3 linked regions of the Homo sapiens genome follow. The protein of the gene in region 2 purifies or fractionates together with the protein of the main gene of each other region. This does not show direct contact. Each region holds a gene or a part of one and is shown on either strand. Other genes may lie near its edges. The genes, in order: SERPING1, PHF11 and DNA2.

Region 1 (3,730 bases), on a different chromosome or scaffold from region 2:
AATGAATGAAATAGAGGGTGCCAAAGAGAGCTACTCAGTAAAAGTGGCTGGAAGACTTCATAGAGGAGGGTTTTTTTCGAGACAGGGTCTCACTCTGTCACTCAAGCTGCAGTGCATTGACATGATCTCAGCTCACTGCAATCTCTGCCTCCCGAGTTCAAGCAGTTCTCCTGCCTCAGCCTCCCAAGTAGCTGGGACTACAGGAGCCCGCCACCACACCTGGCTAATTTTTGTATTTTTAGTAGAGACGGGGTTTCACCATGTTAGCCAAGCTGGTCTCGAACTCCTGACCTCAAGTGATCCACACCCTCAGCCTCCCAAAGGGCTGGGATTACAGGCATGAGCCACAGCGCCCAGCTGAGGAGGTTATTTTTGACCATTCTTTGCTCAGTTATTTATCCACTCATGGACTTATCCACCCATCTATCCATCCCTATCTAATGTATTTGACCATTCATGACTCATTTAGCAGAACCAGGACAGCCTGTATAAGGCACAGAAGAGTGAATATATGTGACAGGTCCAGAGCATTGTTCAAATTCAAGATACGTTGGGGGAGGTATAAATATGAGATTTTTTTCAAATCAATTGGAATGGCTATTTAATCAAAGCCATAGATGTTAGGTGGAAAGTAGGAATTAAGAACTTAACAAGTTAGGTTTAAATGTAACTATTCGAATTATAAGAACAAGTATTTCCTCTCTAAAAATGTTTTTAAAGTTTCACACAAAACTCTAAACCAAAAATCATTGTAAAAATCCCTTGGGAGTAGACTGTTGAAACCATTGAGGTGAGGTGATAGGTTAAGGTGAGCATTCTGGACATATAATATCAATAATAAATATTCAAATACAAAGCAGGTATAATATGAAGAGTAATTTCTATCTCCCCAAGCCAATATGAGTTTTGTTTGTTTGTTTGTTTTTCTTTTGAGATAAAGTCTCATTCTGTTGCCCAGGCCGGAGTGCAGTGGCACAATCCCAGCTCTCTGTAACCTCTGCCTCCCAGGTTCAAGCGATTCTCCTGCCTTAGCCTCCCTAGTAGCTGGGATTATAGGTGCCTGCCACCACTCCCAGCTAATTTTTGTATTTTTAGTAGAGATGGGGTTTCACCATGTTGGCCAGGCTGGTCATGAACTCCTGACCTCAAGTGCTCGTCCGTCTTCGGCCTCCTAAAGTGCTGGCATTACAGGCGTGAGCCACTGCACCCAGCCTGAGTTTTTTTTTTTTTTTTAAGCCAAAGGAGGAGGAGTAGTTTTGTGCACAAAAGCCACTATTTAGAGTTCCTTAGGTTTTAAACAGATAATTAATTTAATGTACTAACAAATGCAAAATTAAAATTTTACTTATGCCTTTTAATTTTAAGCTGAACTTGCTACATTAAGAGTAGGGTGATTTGGCTGGGCGCAGTGGCTCATGCCTATAATCCCAGCACTTTAGGAGGCTGAGGCAGGTGGATCACTTGAAGCTAAGAGTTTGAGACCAGCCTGGCCAACATGGTGGAATTCTGTCTCTACTAAAAATACAAAAATTAGCCAGGCATGGTGGCACATGTCTGTAATCCCAGCTACTCAGGATGCTAAGGCACAGAATCACTTGAACCTGGGAGGCAGAGGTTACAGTGAGCCAAAATCGCGCCACTGCACTCCAACCTGGGCAACACAGCAAGACTCTGTCTCAAAACACAAAAAAAGAATAGGCTGGGTACAGTGGCTCACGCCTGTAATCCCAGCACTTTGGGAGGCCGAGGCAGGTGAATCACCTGAGGTCAGGAGTTCGAGACCAGCTTGGCCAACATTGTGAAACCCCATCTCCATTAAAAATACAAAAAATAAGCCGGGTGTGATGGTGCACGCCTGTAATCCCAGATACTTGTGAGGCTGGGACAGAAGAATCGCTTGAACCCGGGAGGCGAAGGTTGCAGTGAGCCGAGATCATGCCACTGCATTCCAGCCTGAGCGACAGAGTGAGACCTTGTCTCAGAAAAAAAAAAATAGGGTGATTTTTATATAAAAACACTCTCATTTGTTCTTGAATTAATTGCCATATTGAACAGATTAAACTCCTTTAAACCATTTTTTCTATCTACAAACATAATTAGTATTCCCATAAGCATTTTAAGCTCCCTTTAAAAATTTAATATGCTCGATTTTCTTTTTTCTTTTATTTATTTATGTAGTTTTCCCAGACAGGGTCTTACTCTATCACCCAGTCTGGAGTACAGTGACACAATCCTCACTTACTGTAACCTCAAGCTCCTTGGGATGAAGCAGTCCTCCCACCCTAGCCTCTTAAGTAGCTGAGATTCCAGGCATGAGCCACCTCACCCAGCTGATTTTCTTTTTAAACACATCTAATACCTGACAGGTCGTAATTACGACTGTGCTTGGCCATATCATCCTAACACCTAAAGCTCACTTGTAAACTGAAAATTAAATTTGAAGGGTGAATTAACTTCTAGCCAACATTCCAATATCATTCTCACATTTAATGAAATTATCCTACAACTTTGCTTAAAAGCATAAAACTAGCATGTCAGAGTCTCTTAAAAATTACAATCACTATTTTAAATAACAAACATACAGGTTACCCTGAACTTAACACCTGGTTTTAACATGATGAAGTTGGTTTCTTTTGTCATTCTTATACTAAATTCTAAATCTTCCTGGCACTTAAGGATATTTACCCAAGGAAGGGGGTGAGATTTACCGGCTCAGGTACACCGAGGTTACTGGCTTGAAAATTCAAGACCACAGCATGGTAAATTTTTCTTCAGAGATTCAAGGTTCATACATAGGACTTGAAGGGCACATGCTACTCAAATGAGTATATCCAACTTGAGTGCTACATCAACAGGGACCCCATGTCCACTCTTTTCAGTCGAAATTGGCTTACTATCTACTTCTTCTGGGCTATTCAGGTTCCGACAATTGATTGCTTTCAGTTAATTTCTTTATTGCCCAGTTGAATTCTGCATTCTTCTAGATTCTTTTTGTTCCTTCAGCCTCAATCATAATACCATTTAATGACAGTCTCATATCCTATTAGACTAGGGTTTCTCAGCCTTGGCACTATTGACATATTGGGTCAGATAATTCTTTGTCCTGTGCATTGTAGAATTTAGCATCTTCCTTAGCTTCTACTCACTAGAAGCCAGTAGCACTGTGTGCACATCCTCCTTGCCCCCTGCCAGCTATGACAACCAAAATGTCTCCAGACATTACCAAATGTCCACTGAGAGGCAAATTCACTCCGAGTTGACAACCCCTGTATTAAACCCAGGGGCCCTGCACTTCTTACATACTTTTGTCTGGTCACCAGTTGAAAGTCCTTCTTCTTTTTTTTTTCTCTTTTTGAGATGGAGTCTCGCTCTGTCACCAGGCTGGAGTGCAGTGGCATGATCTCGGCTCACTGCAGCCTCCACCTCCCGGGTTCAAGCAATTCTCCTGCCTCAGCCTCCTGAGTAGCTGGGATTACAGGCACGTGCCACCACCCAGCTAATTTTTGTATTTTTAGTAGAGGTGGGGTTTCATCATGGTGGCCAGGATGGTCTCAATCTCTTGACCTCGTGATCCGCCCACCTCGGCCTCCCAAAGTGCTGGGATTACAGGTGTGAGCCACCGTGCATGACCAAAAGTCCTTCTAATAGCAAAGTGGAAAGGTAGGCTGTGAACAATCTTGAATGCCATACTAAGATTTGTACTTATTCTCATAGGCAGTGAAGAGCCATC
Region 2 (3,730 bases):
ATAATCATTATTGTCACTACAAATGAAGAAGAAAACAATGGCATATTAAGAAATAGTGCTCTGGTTAATTATCTATTTAAAAAGTTAGAATCCTAATGCCATACTGTATTCAAAAATAAATTCTATGAGAATTAAAGACATAAATGAGCAATGTACTTTAAGTGTGCTTTAATTCAATATCATGATTAGGAAAGATACATGAAGGTAGGAAGTAGATTTTTTTTTTAAGGCGAAGAATGGAAAAAAGGAAAGAAATCTAAGGGAAGAAGAGGTAGGAAGAAAAGGCAAGAGGCAGAGAGAGGGAGAAGAAAGCCAGCTGTTGAGATCTCCACCCATGTGTCAGTAAGAGGCAAAGTTTTTGAACTGGTTATTTGCTATTTGGCCACAAGAATTCGTTTAAGATTTTTTTGCCCATTGCAATGTTCATCCTCTTACTTCCTTTGATTTTCTGTAGTAGAAAACAGCTTTTATTTATAATTTTCAAATTTTAGTTTTGAAAGAAAGATTTATTTTACCATTTAATGGGAAAAGTTTTCAATTTAGATGAGGTTAACTGCTTAAGTGATCCCTAAGTCTCTTCTGTTATCCAGATCTCTTCTCTGTCTCTTTAAGTTAGGTCTTTCATTTCACCAAGTCAGAAGGCTGCATTTGGAGCTAGCGTTTATTTCACATTCTGATCAGTTTCTTCTTTAATTTCTGTTTCTTGGATTTGGGTCCCACCTACCGGGGACACAAATTAACAGTCCCCAGCTTCCCACCAAGCAAGAAAAAAGGGTAAGATAGAGTGAAAACTGCTCAGACGGAATGAGCTAGCTGTTTTTTTCATTCATGTCTAACAACCAAAAATTTGGGAGTATCTTTTTTTTTTTTTTCATTTTTATTTATTTATTTTTTTATTATTTTTTTATTTATTTTTTATTTATCATTCTTGGGTGTTTCTCACAGTGTTTGTGTCCCTGGGTACTTGAGATTGGGGAGTGGTGATGACTCTTAACGAGCATGCTGCCTTCAAGCATCTGTTTAACAAAGCACATCTTGCACCGCCCTTAATCCATTTAACCCTGAGTGGACACAGCACATGTTTCAGAGAGCACAGGGTTGGGGGTAAGGTCACAGATCAACAGGATCCCAAGGCAGAAGAATTTTTCTTAGTACAGAACAAAATGAAAAGTCTCCCATGTCTACTTCTTTCTACACAGACACGGCAACCATCCGATTTCTCAATCTTTTCCCCACCTTTCCCCCCTTTCTATTCCACAAAGCCGCGATTGTCATCCTGGCCCGTTCTCAATGAGCTGTTGGGTACACCTCCCAGACGGGGTGGTGGCCGGGCAGAGGGGCTCCTCACTTCCTAGTAGGGGCGGCCGGGCAGAGGCGCCTCTCACCTCCCGGACGGGGCGGCTGGCCGGGCGGGGGGCTGACCCCCCACCTCCCTCCCGGACGGGGCGGCTGGCCGGGCAGAGGGGCTCCTCACTTCCCAGTAGGGGCGGCCAGGCAGAGGCGCCCCTCACCTCCCGGACGGGGCGGCTGGCCGGGCGGGGGGCTGGGGAGTATCTTTTTTTTTAGACAGAGTCTCGCTCTGTCACTCAGGTTGGAGTGCAGTGGCGCAATGATGGCTCACTGCAACCTCTGCCTCCAGGGCTCAAGTGATCCTCCCACCTCAGTCTCCCACCTCAGTAGCTGGGACCACAGATATAGGCCACCATGTCTGGCTAATTTTTGTTATTTTTTTTTTTAGAGACAGGGGTCCCATTATGTTGCCCAGGCTGGTCTCAAACTCCTAGGCTCAAGATCAGCCTGCTTGGCCTCCCAAAGTGCTGAGATTACAAGTGTGAGCCACTGCACCCAGCCTGAGAGCATTTCTTGTGTTTGAGTCACTATGTTGTGCACTCTAGACCGATGCTGTCCAACAAGAAACATATAACAAGACACAAATGTGAGCCACAGATATCACTGAAAACTTTCTAGGAGCCTCATTAAAAAAATCAAAAAGGAGGCTGGGCCTAGTGGCTCACGCCTATAATCCCAGAACTTCGGGAGGCTGAGGTGGGTGGATCACCTGAGGTCAGGAGTTCAAGACCAGCTTGGCCAACATGTCACTACTAAAAATACAAAAAAATTAGCCCAGTATGGTGGCACACACCTGTAATTCCAGCTACTTGGGAGGCTGAGGCACGAGAATTGCTTGCACCCAGGAGGCAGAGGCTGCAGTGAGCTGAAATTGTGCCACTGCACTCCAGCCTGGGCAACAGAATGAGGCTCTGTCTCAAAAACGACACAAACAAACAAACAAAAAACCCAAAAAAGAAACAGGTGAAGCTAATAATGTGCTTTATGCAACCAAATATGTCAAAGAACTTACATCCTTTCAACATTTAGTCAATATAAAAGTTATTCATTCTTTTGTACAGAGTCTTTGAAGTCCAGTGTGTATTCTGTGCTTAAAGCATGTCTCAATAGGACCAGTCACATTGTACGTGCTCAACAGCTATCTGTGGTGAGGGGCTCCTCTAGTGAATAGTAGAGCAGAGGACGTAAAGAAATGTGGTGAGATAGAACTGGTGTCTGCAAGAAGCTTACGAAATAAACAGGGAGACTAAATAGCAGTTAGGAAAATAAAATGGCAGAATTAAGTGTCACAAAGTGCAACTGCCAAGTGAGTGGGAATTCCAATACACGCTAAGGAGGTAGCCGAGGAAGTGCTCCTCGTGGGAAGGAGTATTGTCAAGGGCAGGGGCCTGGAACTGGTACAACCTGGAGAGGAGGGAAAGGTGGGGTGGGTTGGGGTATGGGCTAGGAGGAACACTGTAGAGGGAAGCAGCCATATGGGAAAAGGCCCAGAGATCGGAGCTGAGACAGTAAGGCAGCCAGGCTGAGGAGGAAAGGCTGCACAGGAAGCTGGGAAAGGATTTGAGAAACGTGTTGAAAGGCTGCCAAGGAGGATGTCTGAGCAGGAGAAGCACATGATGACAAAGTTGTTTAAGAAGGTCAATCTTGGTCGGGCACGGTGCTCACGCCTGTAATCCCTGCACTTTGGGAGGCCGAGGTGGGTGGATCACAAGATCAGGAGATCGAGACCATCCTGGCTAACATGGTGAAACCCCATCTCTACTACATTAAAAAAAAAAATTAGCTAGGCGTGGTGGTGCATGCCTGTTATCCCAGCTACTCGGGAGGCTGAGGCAGGAGAATCCCTTGGACCTGGGAGGCAGAGGTTGCAGTGAGCCAAGAATGTGCCACTGCACTGTGGCCTGGGCAACAAGAGTGAAACTCCGTCTCAAAACAAACAAACAAATAAACGTATTATCAAGGTACAGTTAGGACAGAAGGTTAGATGATGAAGTCAAAGGAAAGAACACGAAATGCAGAGAGAAGTGGATCATAATCTGGACTTACGAATGTAACATGCAGTAAGGTCACAATCCCATTTCTTCTCTAAGGCACTCATGTCCTTAGCCCATTTTTCTGTTGAATTATTATTTTCTTATTGGTTTATAACAGTCAGGGTATTAACCCTTTGTTAGTCATATATGTGGTCTTTTAACTTTGTTTATAATATTCTTTGATATACAGAATATTTAAATGTTTTACTTGATGAAATTACAACAATCATTTATTTTATGATTTCTGCTCTTGGGTGAGATGGACATAGAAAACACTTACCTCTGTTTTCTTCTAGAATTTTAATTTATTTTAATTAATCAATTTATTTATTTTGAGACAGGGTCTT
Region 3 (3,500 bases), on a different chromosome or scaffold from region 2:
TATACATTTTAAAAATTCTCAAAACTCAACACTACAAAGCATATAATCCAAAATGGGCAAAAACATGAAGAAGAGATACAGATGACAAATAAGCACATGAAAAACTCATTATGGGCCAGGTGTGGTGGCTCAAGCCTGTAATCCCAGCACTTTGGGAGGCTGAGGCAGGTGGATCACCTGAGGTCAAGAGTTCGAGACTAGCCTGGACAACATGGTGAAACCCCGTCTCTACTAAAAAAAAAAAATATGTGGCGCATGCCTGTAATCCCAGCTACTTGGGAGGCTGAGGCAGGAGAATCACTTGAACCTGGGAGGCAGAGGTTGCAGTAAGCCGAGTTCACACCACTGCACTCCAGCCTGGGCAATAACGTGTCAAAAACAAAAAAAAAACCCCACCACATTATGGCTGGATGCAGTGGCTCACATCTGTAATCCCAACACTTTGGGAGGCAGACAGAGGTGGGAGGATCATTTGAACCCAAGAGTTCAAGACCAGCCTGGACAACATAAAAAAATTGAAAATATTAGGCAGGCATGGTGGTACATGCCTGTATAGTTCTAGTTACTCAGGAGGCTGAGGCAGAAAGATCACTTGAGCCCAGAAGGTCAGGGCTGCAGTGAGGCGTGGTCTCACCAGTGCACTCCAGCCTGGGCAACAGAGCAAGACCTTGTCTCAAACACACACACACACACACACACACACACACATTTTAACTGGGTAAATGCAAATTAAAATCTCCAAACACCTACCAAAATGGCTAAAATTAAAAATAGTATCAGCTGGGCACGGTGGCTCATGCCTCTAATCCCAGCACTTTGGGAGGCCAAGGCGGGTGGATCACGAGGTCGGGAGCTCAAGACCAGCCTGGCCAACATGGTGAAACCTCGTCACTACTAAAAATATAAAAAATTAGCCAGGCGTGGTGGCGCATGCCTGTAATCCTAGCTACTCAGGAGGCTGAGGCAGGAGAATTGCTTGAACCTGGGAGGCAAAGGTTGCAGTGAGCTCAGATCGCACCACTGCACTCCAGCCTGGGCGCCAGAGCCAAACTCCATCTCAGAAAAAAAAAAAAGCCCGGCACAGTGGCTCACGCCTGTAATCCCAACACTTTAGGAGGCCGAGACAGGCAGATCACAAGGTCAGGAGATTGAGACCATCCTGGCTAACATGATGAAACCCCATCTCTAGTAAAAATACAAAGAATTAGCTGGGCGTGGTGGCAGGCGCCTGTAGTCCCAGCTACTCGGGAGGCTGAGGCAGGAGAATGGCATGAGCTGGAAGGCGGAGCTTGCAGTGAGCCAAGATTGCACCACTGCACTCCAGCCTGGGGGACAAAGCGAGACTCCGTCTCAAAATAAAAAAAAATTGTATCGCCACCAAATGCTGAGGAGATCACTCATACACGTGAAATGTTCCTGCTTAGAAAAACAGTTTGGCAGATTAAAAAAAAAAAATGAACATGCAACTACCAATCAATCCAGAAATTGTACTACTGGGAATTTATCCCAGGGAAATGAAGACTTATGTTACGCAAAAACCTGTAACATGATTGTTTACAGCAGCTTTATTCACAATATCCAAAAACTGGAAACAATCCAGATTTTCAGAGGGTGAATGGTTAAACACAATGCAGTACATCCATGCTATGGAAAAATACTTGGCAACAAAAAGGAACAAACTATTAATACGTACAACTATCTGGGGGAAGCTCTGGAGAATCAGGCTAAGTAAAAAACACCAATCCCAAAAGGCTATTGCATTTACTTAACATTCTCGAACGACCAAATTATCGAAATGGAGATCAGAGTCTCAGAGTCATGGCTGTCAGAGGTTAAGGAGGGGTAAGGCAGGAGAGTGGATACAACTATAAAAGTGCAACATGAGGAATCTTGTGGTAATAGAATAGGGACTGTATCAATGTCAACATCCTGGGTGTGACATTGTACTACAGACTTGCAAGATGTCACCACTGGATAAAGGGGACACAGGCTCTCTCTAGTATTTCTTACAACTGCATGTGACTCTACAATTACCTCAAAGTAAAATGTTTAATTTAATAAAAATGTTAACCAGATATACATCTTAGCCAGTTCTAAATTTATCAATAACAGGGACAGATATTAGACAAAAATATGCTAGCATTAGACAAAGGAGGTAAAGGAACACTCTATTAAATCTAATCTTTGGGAAATTTTTTAAAGACAAAAATATCAGTTAAGCCAGGCACTATAGCCGCGCCCATAATCCCAGCTACTTGGTGGAAGGTTCAATTAAAAAAAAAAAAAAAAAGCCGGGCGCAGTAGTTCACGCCTATAATCCTGGCACTTTGGGAGGCCGAGGCAGGAGGATAACCTGAGGTTGGGAGTGCGAGACCAGCCTGACCAACACGGAGAAACCCTGTCTCTACTAAAAATACGAAATTAGCAGGACGTGGTCAGGCATGCCTGTAATCCCAGCTACTTAGGAGGCTGAAGCAGGAGAATCGCTTGAATCCGGGAGGCAGAGGCTGCTGTGAGCTGAGATGGCGCCATTGCACTCCAGCCTGGGCAACAAGAATAAAACTCCGTCTCAAAAAAAAAAAAAAAAAATTAGTCAGGCGTGGTGGCGGGTGCCTGTAGTCCCAGCTACTCGGAAGGCTGAGGCAGGAAAATGGTGTGAACCCAGGAGGCGAAGCTTGCAGTGAGCCAGGATCGCGCCACTGCACTCCAGCCTGGGTGACAGAGCAAGACTCCATCTCAAAAAAAAAAAAAAAAAAAAGAAAAAAAAATCTGTTAAGAACTCCCAGTATAAATAAACATTAAATAACAAAATAAAATAAAAATTAGATTCTATATAAAAGCCTAGAGATAGTTATCACAAGACTATTAAGTACCATTGTTTCTAATTCAAACTTACTAAAAAACCCGGATTTTTTTTTTTTTTTTTTGAGCTGGAGTCTTGCATTGTCACCTAGGCTGGAGTGCAGTGGCGCGATCTCTGCTCACTGCAACCTCCGCCTCCCAGGTTCAAACGATTCTCCGTGCCTCAGCCTCCCAAGTAGCTGGAATTACAGGCGCCCACCACCACGCCCGGCTAATTTTTTTTGTATTTTTAGTAGAGACAGGTTTTCACCATGTTGGCCAGGCTGGTCTTGAACTCTTGACCTCATGATCCACCCACCTCAGCCTCCCAAAGTGCTGGGATTACAAGCGTAAGCCATCGCACCTGGCTGAAACCCTGATTATTAGTAGTTTCCTAGGATATTTGAAACTAGAAGAGAGCCCTAAATAATAAACCCAAAACCTTATTTCAGATCAGAAGGAAATAGCAAACTATAAGTTAATAAACTGGTCGTATAGTACATATAAATTAATCATGTGCAAATCCAGTCAATGTGACTAAATTTCCCAGAGTACAGTTTCTCCCCTCATTCTGGCTGTGGACATTAACTGTTAGTATTATTATACAATAATTGTGCTTACTTGACTATTGTAGAGTTCTTCTAGAAGAGCTAAGGATT

The links.
Region 1: the proteins of PHF11 (region 2) and SERPING1 purify together in Homo sapiens (affinity purification with mass spectrometry; one large-scale study listed by BioGRID and IntAct). This does not show direct contact.
Region 3: the proteins of PHF11 (region 2) and DNA2 purify together in Homo sapiens (affinity purification with western blotting, with the first as the bait; one study listed by BioGRID). This does not show direct contact.

What each region holds. Positions count from the first base shown.
Region 1 is NC_000011.10:57,607,600-57,611,329, forward strand, and holds part of SERPING1 (plasma protease C1 inhibitor precursor), read left to right. Parts: intron 1-3,730. UniProt on the Homo sapiens protein: Serine protease inhibitor, which acrs as a regulator of the classical complement pathway. Forms a proteolytically inactive stoichiometric complex with the C1r or C1s proteases. May also regulate blood coagulation, fibrinolysis and the generation of kinins.
Region 2 is NC_000013.11:49,502,289-49,506,018, reverse strand, and holds part of PHF11 (PHD finger protein 11), read right to left. Parts: intron 1-3,730. UniProt on the Homo sapiens protein: Positive regulator of Th1-type cytokine gene expression.
Region 3 is NC_000010.11:68,426,974-68,430,473, forward strand, and holds part of DNA2 (DNA replication ATP-dependent helicase/nuclease DNA2), read right to left. Parts: coding exon 3,463-3,500; intron 1-3,462. UniProt on the Homo sapiens protein: Key enzyme involved in DNA replication and DNA repair in nucleus and mitochondrion.